Linked DNA regions of Homo sapiens. The protein of the gene in region 3 purifies or fractionates together with the protein of the main gene of each other region. This does not show direct contact. Each region holds a gene or a part of one and is shown on either strand. Other genes may lie near its edges. The genes, in order: CCZ1B, CCZ1 and ABHD17A.

Region 1 (3,648 bases), on a different chromosome or scaffold from region 3:
CATTTTAAATGGGATATACCTTTTTATTTCTTAAACTGACTAGGCAGTGCTACGACGCTGCCTCCCAGGTCAGAGTCTGTGACCTCCTCGGGGACCTAGTGGGAAAAGCTGGGCCTCACTGCTCCTGGGGCCCCTCCCCTCCCCTCCCTGCACCCTCAGTGTCCACCCTGGGGCCTGGATGGGGCCTGAGCACAGCCCCGCCCCTGGGCTCAGAGGCCTCCTCTGCTTGCTTCAGGGTTAGCAGCCACGTTCTGGAGGGCTGGGGGTACCAGAAATCCGACCTCCGGACCAATGGGGTACTCATGAAATACTCTACGTCCAGGCAAAGAAAGAACGTGGAGGATTGAGTTTCCAGGAACATGTAAAGAAACTTCTTATAAAACCAGAATTTGTTTTCATAGTTCCCTAAGGTTAAGGAAAGTATAATGACAAGAAAAACTGTTTGGAAAGAGTTGTAAATTTAGTTGTCTGGGTAGACAAGGAACTTAAATCGGGTGTAAGCTTCTATCCTCAAAACACTCTGTGAGGCCAGGAGCAGTGGCTCACGCCTATAATCCCAGCACTTTGGGAGGCTGAGGCAGGCAAATCACTTGAGGTCAGGAGTTCGAGATCAGCCTAGGCCACATGGCGAAACCCCGCCTCTACCAAAAATACAAAAATTAGCCAGGCGTGGTGGCACACACCTGTAGTCCTAGCTCCCGGGGAGGCTGAGGTAGGAGGCTCACTTACAGCCTGGGAGGTCAAGGCTGCAGTGAGCCATGATTGCACCACTGCACTCCAGCCTGGGCGACAGCAGGAGACCCTGTCTCCAAAAACAAACCCACAAAAAAACAAAACAGGTGACACGTTCTCTATGGTCACTACACTTTGTCACTTTCCATCTGTTAGTTGATAACCTGCATGATCCAAACCGATTTAACTCACTTTTGCCTCCTTCACAAAGGAAAACCTGGTATTTTCACGGCCAAAGGATTCAATGATTCAGCAGCACTGTCAAGATATAAGCTGTTGGCTGGGCATGGTGGCTCATGCCTGTAATGCTAGCACTTTGGAAGGCCGAGGTGGGTGGATCACCTGAGGTCAGGAGTTCAAGACCAGCCTGGCCAACATGGCAAAACCCTGTCTCTACTAAAAATACAAAAATTATTAGCTGAGTGTGGTGGCACACGCCTGGAGTCCCAGCTACTCGGGAGGCTGAGGCAGGAGAATTGCTTGAATGAACTCAGGGGCTGGAGGTTGCAGTGAGCTGAGATCATGCCACTGCACTCCAGCCTGGGTGAAAGAGTGAAACTCTGTCTCAAAAAATAAAAACAAAAAGCAACAAAGATGTAAGCTGTTGACAGCAGTAATCCACACACTGTTGTACAAAACCTAGAGGTGCTTTCACCTTTGCTCGCTTCTGCGCTCTTAGAGGCCCACGGTTATACAAGACCATGCAGAAATAACATATGGGCCGGGCGCGGTGGCTCACGCCTGTCATCCCAGCACTTTGGGAGGCCGAAGTGCGTGGATCACGAGGTCAGGAGTTCGAGACCAGTCTGACCAACATGGTAAAACCCAGTCTCTACAAAAATACAAAAATTAGCCAGGCATGATGGCACCCAGCTACTCAGGAGGCTGAGGCAGGAGAATCGCTTGAACCTGGGAGGCGGAGGTTGCAGTGAGCTGAGAACAGACCATTGCACACTCCAGCCTGGGCAACTGAGACTCTGTCTTAAAAAAAAAAAAAAAACCCAAAAAACAACGTATGAACATTAAGACCATGAGCGTATGCAGAAATTCACAGCCTTTTAGTAACTTCTCAAATGTGTAGAGAGCCCATTTAAAAGCAGGACTTCAACTTCGCAAAGTGCTTTCCATCGCCTCACTTTCACTTTATAATAACTATTTTATATTGAGAAAAGATAGGCATGGCCGGGTGCGGTAGCTCACACCTGTAATCCCAGCACTTTGGGAGGCTGAGGCAGGTGGATCACTTGAGGTCAGGAGTTCAAGACCAATCTGGCCAACATGGTGAAACCGTCTCTACTAAAAATACAAAAAGGAGCCGGGCATGGTGGTGCACGCCTGTAATCCCAGCTACTCAAGAGGATGAGGCATGAGAATCGCTTGAGCCTGGGAGGCGGAGGCTGCAGTGAGCCAAGATCAAGCCACTGCACACTCCAGCCTGGGCGACAGAGTGGGAATTTGTCTCAAAAAAAAAGCCAGGGAGAAAGAATTCAAGGACATTTCAGTGTCTAGAGAGCCGGAGGAGTGAATCCCGCCTCTCCCACTCAGTGTAGACACTTCAGGCTGCCAGACTGAGTACCCAGGCCCAGTGCCCCACATCCCAGCCAGTTTCCCCTACACATTTTCACACAACGAGAGGCAAAATGCTTTCAGTCTGTGCACACCAAGACCACGCCGATGACTACTGTCCAAGTGAACGTAACAATCTGGGCTGGTGAAATGGGACGTTCCATTCGGGGGGAGCTGAGGGAAGGTATTTACCAGAAGGCCCAGCCCCAGCTGCCAGCGTGGGGCAGAAACACTCAGGGTGACTGTCCCCGGGACCCTTTCAGACAGAGGCCTGAATGGCACGTAGCACCATCCTCTACAGTCCACGAGAACACAGGACTGTTAATACCACCCGTATTTGTAAGTGAAAACTACGTGTATTTCAAAAGCCGTTCAATGCCTGAAAGTGAACCGAAAGCAAAGTACAAACCCAGACATCCTCTTGTTGATGTTAAACTGTTCACAGATGTCAGAGGCCAGCACTGTGAGCTGGGGCCCAACGATGCTGTCCAGTCTTCGGCAAAAATCCAACGTTGGGTGGACAGAGGCTGGCAAGTCATGACAAAAAATACCAGTAAGATTCATTTTACTGTGCGACACTGAACAACAGTATTCAAACGAAAACTTCACTGGTCTGGGAAAACAAACAATGAATGCTCAGGCCCCCTTCTGCTCCTCAAATAGAAGAGAAACAGAAGATAGAAAACCGGTTACATTTCAGATGAAAAAAGGGCGAAGACCTATCTCACCGTGAAAAGCTGACCGAGGCACACCCTGTAGGGTGGTAAACGGTTGCCTACCCCAGAAAGACCTCAGAAGGTCGTATGTTTATTTAACAAACATTACGTAGCACTCATGGGCCAGGTGCTTCACAGACATGACCTCATTCGATCCTCAGAACCCCCCCGAGAGAGGTACCACTGCTGTCTCCAGCTCGCAGTCGGTGGGACACAGAAAGATGCCCACACTCTACTGCTGACTAGCGGGAAAACTAGGACTTAAAAAATATGAGCACTGGCTAGTTAAGGAGACAGGGGGGTCCCAGATGGGGAACAGGGCTCCTCTCTATGCCTCTATATTGCTTATGACAACACATTTATCATTTAATGGGCTGGGTGTGGGGGCTCACGCCCGAAATCCCAGCACTTTGGGAGGCTAAGATGGGTGGATCGCTTGAGCCCAGGAGTTTGACACCAGCCCGGGCAACATAGTGAGACCCTGTCTAAACAAACAACCACAAAAACATTAGCTGGGTCCGGCGGTGTGTACTGGCAGTCCCAGCGACTTAGGAGGCCAAGGTGGGAAGATCACTTGAACCCAGGAGGTCGAGGCTACAGTGAGCTATGATCATGCCACTGCACTCCAAGAGTG
Region 2 (3,648 bases), on a different chromosome or scaffold from region 3:
CTGAAATGAGGCAGGAAGGAGCAGCACATGGAAAAAGCACAGAGAAACTAGCAGGTATCAGACTCTGGAACCGGTTTTTTAAAAGGAGACAGACAATGAGGCTGGATCTGGGCGTTTTCTATTCAAGATCACTGAAATACCGTGAAGGTGGTCGGGCGCGGAAGCTCACACCTGTAATCCCAGCACTTGGGGAAGCCAAGGTGAGCAGATCACCTAAGGTCAGGGGTTCAACACCAGCCTGGCCAACATGGCGAAACACCGTCTCTACTAAAAAATATAAAAATTTGCTAGGCCTGATAGCACACACCTCTAATCCCAGCTACTTGGGAGACTGAGGCATGAGAATCGCTTGAACCTGGGAGGCGCAGGTTGAAGTGAGCTGAGATCACATCACTGCACTCTAGCCTGGGCAACCAAGCCAATGAGACTCAGTCTCAAAAAAAAAAAATCAAAGCAATATACTAAGTAAATACATAAGGGTAATATATACTCTGCTTGTGACAAGTTTTTTTTTCCACTTTTTGGTAGAGACAGAGCCTCATTATATTGTCCAGGCTGGTCTCCAAGTAACTCCTGGCTCAAGCGATCCTTCTGCCTCCTCCTCCCCAGTAGCTGGGACTATAGGTATGTGCACCACGCCTGGCTTAAAAGTCTTTTTGGTATTTAATATAACAGCTTTGGAATAAGCAATTCCGTCAAAACGTGCTGTTTTTCTTTTTCTTAGACAGGGTCTTGCTCTGTCACCCAGGCTGGAGTACAGTGGTGCTATCATAGCTCACTGCAACCTCAAACTTCCAGGCTCAAGTGATTCTCCAGCCTCAACCTCTGTAGTCTCTGTAGTTGGGACTCTAAGTGCACACCACAATGCCCAGCTATTTTTTTTTTTTTCCATTTTTTGTAGATACAGTCTCACTATGCTGCCCAGGCTGGTCTTGAACTCCTGGTCTCAAGTGATCCTCCTGCCTCAGCCTCCCAAAGTGCTGGGATGACAGGTGTAAGCATTGGCGCCTGTTTTGCTTGAAGGTTATTTTTGTTGCTACTTCCTGGGACTGACCTTTCCCCACGAGCACACTGGAGGTGACAACAGAACAGTTCTGTGCAGCCACCAGAGCTGTGCCCTGCTCAACCCCTCAGATGCTATTCCAAGATGACGATGCCAACAGGATCCCCAGAGCTGGGCGCCAGATTGTCCTGTGACTCCAGGCTTCAAAGGGCCAACCCTGCTGGTCACTCTGGCTCCAGGGTCTCCCAGAATGAGCTCCTGGAAGACCCTCTGCTCTAAGCCTTCCCTCTTCCTCACTCTCAGGAGTTTGCACCCATGGCGGGGCTTGTGTTCTGTCCCAGAGATCAGAATCTCAGCTACCCTTCTCTTTTTGGTGGAAGCAAGGCCATGGGCCACTACTGCTGGATTCTGGCTTGTCACATGACATCTCCCTATCGCTGTGGCTGCGTGTGACTTGCAAGCACGTCCTGTCATTTCCATCTGTGGAGGAGCCATCCCTCTGCAGACCTGATGCTACAGAAGCACAACTAGCCTCCCATCTCCTACATTTCACAGCAGAATTTCACTTTAGTAACATTGTGTACATATCACAGAAAGCAACTATAGCTGAGTCAGTACAGTGTAAGGTTGCCTGATAAACTATTTGTCAAATTAGAAAGTAGGTGGAGGCGGGGCACAGTGGCTCACACCTGTAATCCCAGCACTGGGAGGCCAAGGTGGGCGGATCCTTTGAGGTCAGGAGTTCGAGACCAGCCTGGCCAACATGGTAAAACCCCATCTCTACAAAAAAATTAGCTGGGTGTTGTGGTATGCACCTGTAATCCCAGCTACTCGGGAGGCTGAGGCAGGAGAATTGCTTGAACCCAGGAGGCAGGGGTTGCAGCAAGCCAAGATCATGCCACTGCACTCCAGCCTGGGCAACAGAAAGCGACTCCATCTCAAAAACAAAAAAAAAAGTAGATGGGTTTCACCCGAAATTTCTGTTGTCTTCCTAGGAGATAAAGTTCATGTGGAAACCCACCAAGTTGTTTATTAACTGGATTCAAATTTCTTTACAGTAACTTGTTTCTCTTCTTAAAATGGAGCTACAAGATTTTGGCAGGGAAGGTAAATTTTAGGGGAACTAGTTTTGCCTTTTCTATTAGCTGAATTTACCTTATAGTAGTACCATATGGCCACACCCCTAATTAAGAAACTGGGCTAGGCCAGGTGCAGTGGCTCACACCTGTAATCGAGGCACCTTGGGAGGCCTATGCAGGGGAATCACCTGAGGTCAGGGGTTTAGGACCAGCCTGGCCAACATGGTAAAACCTTGTCTGTACTGAAAATACAAAAATTAGCCGGGCATGGTGGCATATGCCTGTAATCCCAGCTACTTGGGAGGCTGAGGCAGGAGAATCGCTTGAACCCAGGAAGGGGAAGTTGCAGTGAGCCAAGATCGCGCCACTGTACTCCAGCCTGGCAACAGAGTGAGACTCCGTCTCAAAAAAAAAAAAAAAAAAGAAAGAAAGAAAGTGGGCTCTAGTCAACGGGAACATAAAACTTGAGGGTCCCAGAACAGCTGCAAGCCTTGATGACTTCTGTCCACCTACTCTAGGCCAAATGTGCACAACCTCGGTTGCCACCCAGCTCTCAGGGGTCACATATGCTGGGCAGTCTTGTGCCCACGTTGTTCCTACTGCAGGACACAAACCTAGTTTCACGATAGCAGGTAATTTCCTGGTTTATATAACACTTTGGATTTCTTGGATTAAAAAAAAAGAAATCTAGTTTCTTTAAAAGAAAGTAGGTGCAGTGGCTCGTGCCTGTAATCCCAGCACTTTGGGAGGCTGAGGCGGGTGGATCGCTTGAGGCCAGGAGTTTGAGACCAGCCTGGGCAACACAGTAAACCCCGTCTCTATAAGAAAGAAAAAAAAAAAAAAAGGTATAAAAATTCTGCTTTTATCATTTCAGAAAAAAAAAAAAACTCCAAAATAAAAACAGGATTCCTAAACCTTACTTGATAGGAACATTTTCTCTTTTTTTTTTTTTTTTTTTTTTTTTTGGAGACAGAGTCTCTCTCTGTTGCCAGGCTGGGGTACAGTGGTGCCATCTCGGCTCACTGCAACCTCCGCCTCCCGGGTTCAAGTGATTCTCCTGCCTCAGCCTCCTGAGTAGCTGGGATTACAGGCATGCACCACCACGCCCAGCTACTTTTTGTATTTTTAGTAGAGACAGGGTTTCACTATGTTGACCAGGCTGGTCTCCAACTCCTGACCTCGTGATTCACCCGCCTCAGCCTCCCAAAGTGCTAAGATTACAGGTGTGAGCCACCGTGCCCAGCCTTTCATCTTTCATGCAACCAGTTTTAAACTCCTCTGCTTGGAAATTTGAACCCAAATCACCCTAGTTCTGCTTTAAATAATCACTGCTTTATTTTGACAATATCTATGAAGATGCTTCCTACCCATCCTCCCCGCTGCAAGTTCCTGTTTGACAACCTGTCATCAATCCAGTCACTGCTGTTTTTATTATCTTAATTTCTTCTTTTAATACCATGCCTCGGGGTGTACCTACCAGATGAGCTGATCGTTATAGAGAAAAGCAGTGTATTTGACTATATTCAGGCTTTCCTCCATTCTATTAATAAAGGACTGGATTTTCAA
Region 3 (3,242 bases):
GTGCTGCGGCCCCGCACGTGACGCAGCGCCTTCTCGCGCCCAGACTGAAGCACCGCCCCCCCTTAAAGGGGCCGCGGACTAGAGCTAGCTGGATGCAGCTTGGGATCCCGGCCTCGCCACCGCCTGGTCGCGCGACACAGGCTGAACCCTGCCCAACCCTAAGGTGGACAACAGGCCACCGGTTCCCGAGTCCTCCCGGTCCTAAGCCTTCTGCCCTAGAGATCGTAGGAACTCTTCTCGTGATCCCAGCTCCAGTGTCGGCTCCCTCTTCCAGGGGAGACCCTCGGGGCCCAAGCACCTGCCACCGCCCTCTGCTGGACCCCAGCTTCGCCATCTACGAAGGAAGCGGCCTGTCCGAGCTCTGAGGTCCGTCAAGCGCGGCACCTCAGGACCCAGAGTGCGCTGTCCTGGCCCCTCTGCAGTAGGACTGACGGGAAGCTGTCGAGGGGGCAGTCCCGCGATGGCAGCAGGGCCCCCACGCCTGGCGTCCTCATCGCGCCCACCCAGCAGGGCTCACCAGCCTCCCTAGGAAGCAGGCAGGGGTCCTGGGCTCAAACGCTGCCCCACCCATCATCGCCCAGGCAACCAGCTCCCTAAGGGCTCCCCGGACTAGACAGAGACCCACCCCACTTCCGCAGAGTAAAACCTATAAGGGGGTCCGTGCCGATCTCTCCTAGGGACTCAGGGACGAAACCTGGGAACCCCGGCCCCCTTTCGAGCTCGCTGAGCGCTCGAGAGAGTGAGCAGAGCCATGAAAGGAAGGAGAGCAGCCCTAAAATTTTAAATCTTTAATTTCCGTTTTCACGTATTTTCTTCTTGCTTCCAAAAGGAAAGGAGTGCGTAGCTCTGTTGCCTGTACATCGTCCACAGCCCCTGGGTCGGGGCGGGGTCCCCTGGGCCGCCCGGGGGGTCCACATGCAGCCCCTGGGTGGGGGCCGGCGCGGGGTGAGGTCCGGGGGCCGCCTTATTGCTGAGGTCCGGCCGGTTGGGGCCGCCGCTAGGCGCGCTGGCTGGGCAGCTCCTGGGAGATGAAGCGACGCAGGCGCTCCAGGTACTGGCTGTAGAGCTCGATGTCGTTGTGCCCGGCGCCCTCCACCCACAGCGGCTCCACCGCCTTGGGGCAGCGCTCGTAGAGCGCCAGCCCGTGCGAGAAGTCGATCACCTCGTCCTCCGTGCCGTGGATGATGAGCACGGGAGACGTGATCTTGGACACCTTCTCGATGCTGCGGGAGGGTCGTGGAGCCGGTGAGACTTCGCGCCCGGCCCGGGCCCCGCCCCGCCCCCGTCCCCGCCCGGGCCGCTCACTTAGGGAAGGCGTCGAAGCAGTAGGTCTTCTTGGTGTCGGGGAAGGCGACGCGCATGCCCGAGGTGAGCGGCGAGTGCAGCACCACCGCGGCACACTCGTAGCGCGAGGCCAGGTCCACGGTGGGCACCGTGCCGATGCTCTGCCCGTACAGGATGATGCTGTCCGGGCTGATGCCGTACCTGGCGGCGCCGGAGCAGGGTCAGCCGCGGCCTCCGACGCGCGCGCACCCTTCCCACCAGCGGGCGTCCCCGGGCCCAGCTCCGGATGCGACCCTCCAGTCTCCCCACTCAGCCAAGTCAGTGGGTCAGGCTCAGGCTCCACACCAGTCCCGAGGGCCACCCCCAGCCCCCAACACCGTGGCGGTGGGCGAAGCCAGCGGCCCCGCCCCGTTCCCTGCGCTGCCGTTCACTGGCGTTTCCTAGCTAGGATCTGCAGGGATCCTGCCTACGGAGTGCCCCTGGGGCGGGGGTAAGGGAGGCCCTGGCGCCTCTCCTCCTCCTGGTCACCCCTAGGTGCACACTGGGAACTGTGTGGCCCCCACATCCTGAATGCTTCACACCTTCCTGCCAGGGTTAGAAAACCGTTCCTGGTGCACTGGCCAGGACAGCGGACACTATTCCTCCCTGCAGCCCTTGCCCACCCCCTTGGCCATGAGGAATTCAGGCAGCTGTGTCCCCAAATGTCTCCACCCAATTTTGGACTCTCGGAGTCCCCACGCCCAATGAGATGCCAGTGCAACCCAGGTCAGCATCGAGGGTGGTGGCTGCGGAGGTGGCACCCCCTCCCACCAGCACCTTCCCTTGGGAGTGGACAAGTCCTCGGCCACCTCAGCACCACCAGCTCCCACCCAGGGGCACCCTCACCCCCAGGTCATTGGTGTGCGGCCCCTGACCCAGCTGATCCAGCACCAGTTACAAGGCCTCCTCGTGCCCAGTCCCAAGCACACGGGACCCACCTGCCACCCTGCCCATGCCGGGACCCCACAACTCTCCTCCCACACGCTCTAGGCTCTGATCCCAGGCAGACGCCCTCTTGCAAGGCAGGAGCATGGGCAGGTGTGCGTCCCCTCTGCCTGGCATCTCCACCAGCAGGGCTGTCCCCGTCCCTGGCCTGGAATCCCAGCCTCCTGGCAGCACTCCACAGCTCGCCACTCACCCATGCCCCAAAGGATGCTGCCTGGCTGGTGCCTGTGGCTCCAGCTCTGCCTCGGCCTCCCTGGCCTGCTCCCTGGCAGCCATGGTCAGTAGTGTGCTGAGCCAGCCCAGCCCTGCCACCTGCTACAGGCAGGAGCCCCGAGCTGCCACCTGGATGTCACCACTCAAACGAACAGGACACATCCCCGGTGGAGGCCCTGGGCACGCTCTGGCCTCCCCCTCACAGCTCTGGGCCTAGGTTCCTGCAGGACAAAGTGGCAGCAGGACAGATGGCCGAGCAGACAGAGCTCAGAGCTGGCCATGGCAGGTGTGACTCTGCCAGTGGCCCAGGCAGTAGAGACAGGAGGGGCCGAGGAAGTCGCATGAAGTGGTGATTGGTGTCAGCGTCCCACACTGCTGGGAGGCCCCCAGAGCCAGGGTGGTGCCAGGGGACCAGCTCCCAGGCCCACTGCAGGGACTGCCTGCATATCACCAAGGCAACGACGACCCCACCTCCCTAGGGCCTCTGACTTCTCAGAGCTGTGCCTGGTCCCTGTGGGAGCAGGTCAGACCAGTGGGCTGGGCAGGGCCAGGACGAGACAGGCCCAGTGGATGGTGAGCAGGAAAAGCCACCAGAGGCCCACCCGGGTCTCCTCGTCCAAAGCAGCACTGGCCCGGGCGGTGCTCAAACACCGGTGAAGGGCCCAGGCAAGCGCAGGGCTGGGGACGTGGATGACTAGGAGGGCTGGATCTGGAATCGAGGCTGGCCCAGACCTCGGATGTGTGCTGCGGGTCTGCACCTT

What was found.
Region 1: the proteins of ABHD17A (region 3) and CCZ1B purify together in Homo sapiens (co-immunoprecipitation; one large-scale study listed by IntAct). This does not show direct contact.
Region 2: the proteins of ABHD17A (region 3) and CCZ1 purify together in Homo sapiens (affinity purification with mass spectrometry, with the first as the bait; one large-scale study listed by BioGRID). This does not show direct contact.

Annotation. Positions count from the first base shown.
Region 1 is NC_000007.14:6,802,231-6,805,878, forward strand, and holds part of CCZ1B (vacuolar fusion protein CCZ1 homolog B), read right to left. Parts: intron 2,826-3,648; coding exon 2,708-2,825; intron 1-2,707.
Region 2 is NC_000007.14:5,905,181-5,908,828, reverse strand, and holds part of CCZ1 (vacuolar fusion protein CCZ1 homolog), read right to left. Parts: coding exon 3,560-3,648; intron 1-3,559. UniProt on the Homo sapiens protein: Acts in concert with MON1A, as a guanine exchange factor (GEF) for RAB7, promotes the exchange of GDP to GTP, converting it from an inactive GDP-bound form into an active GTP-bound form.
Region 3 is NC_000019.10:1,876,203-1,879,444, forward strand, and holds the end of ABHD17A (alpha/beta hydrolase domain-containing protein 17A), read right to left. Parts: exon of another isoform or gene 2,703-3,242; coding exon of another isoform or gene 2,681-2,702; exon of another isoform or gene 2,545-2,680; coding exon of another isoform or gene 2,462-2,544; exon of another isoform or gene 1,492-2,461; intron 1,486-1,491; coding exon 1,306-1,485; intron 1,224-1,305; coding exon 998-1,223; 3' UTR 608-997; downstream 1-607. UniProt on the Homo sapiens protein: Hydrolyzes fatty acids from S-acylated cysteine residues in proteins. Has depalmitoylating activity towards NRAS. Has depalmitoylating activity towards DLG4/PSD95. May have depalmitoylating activity towards MAP6.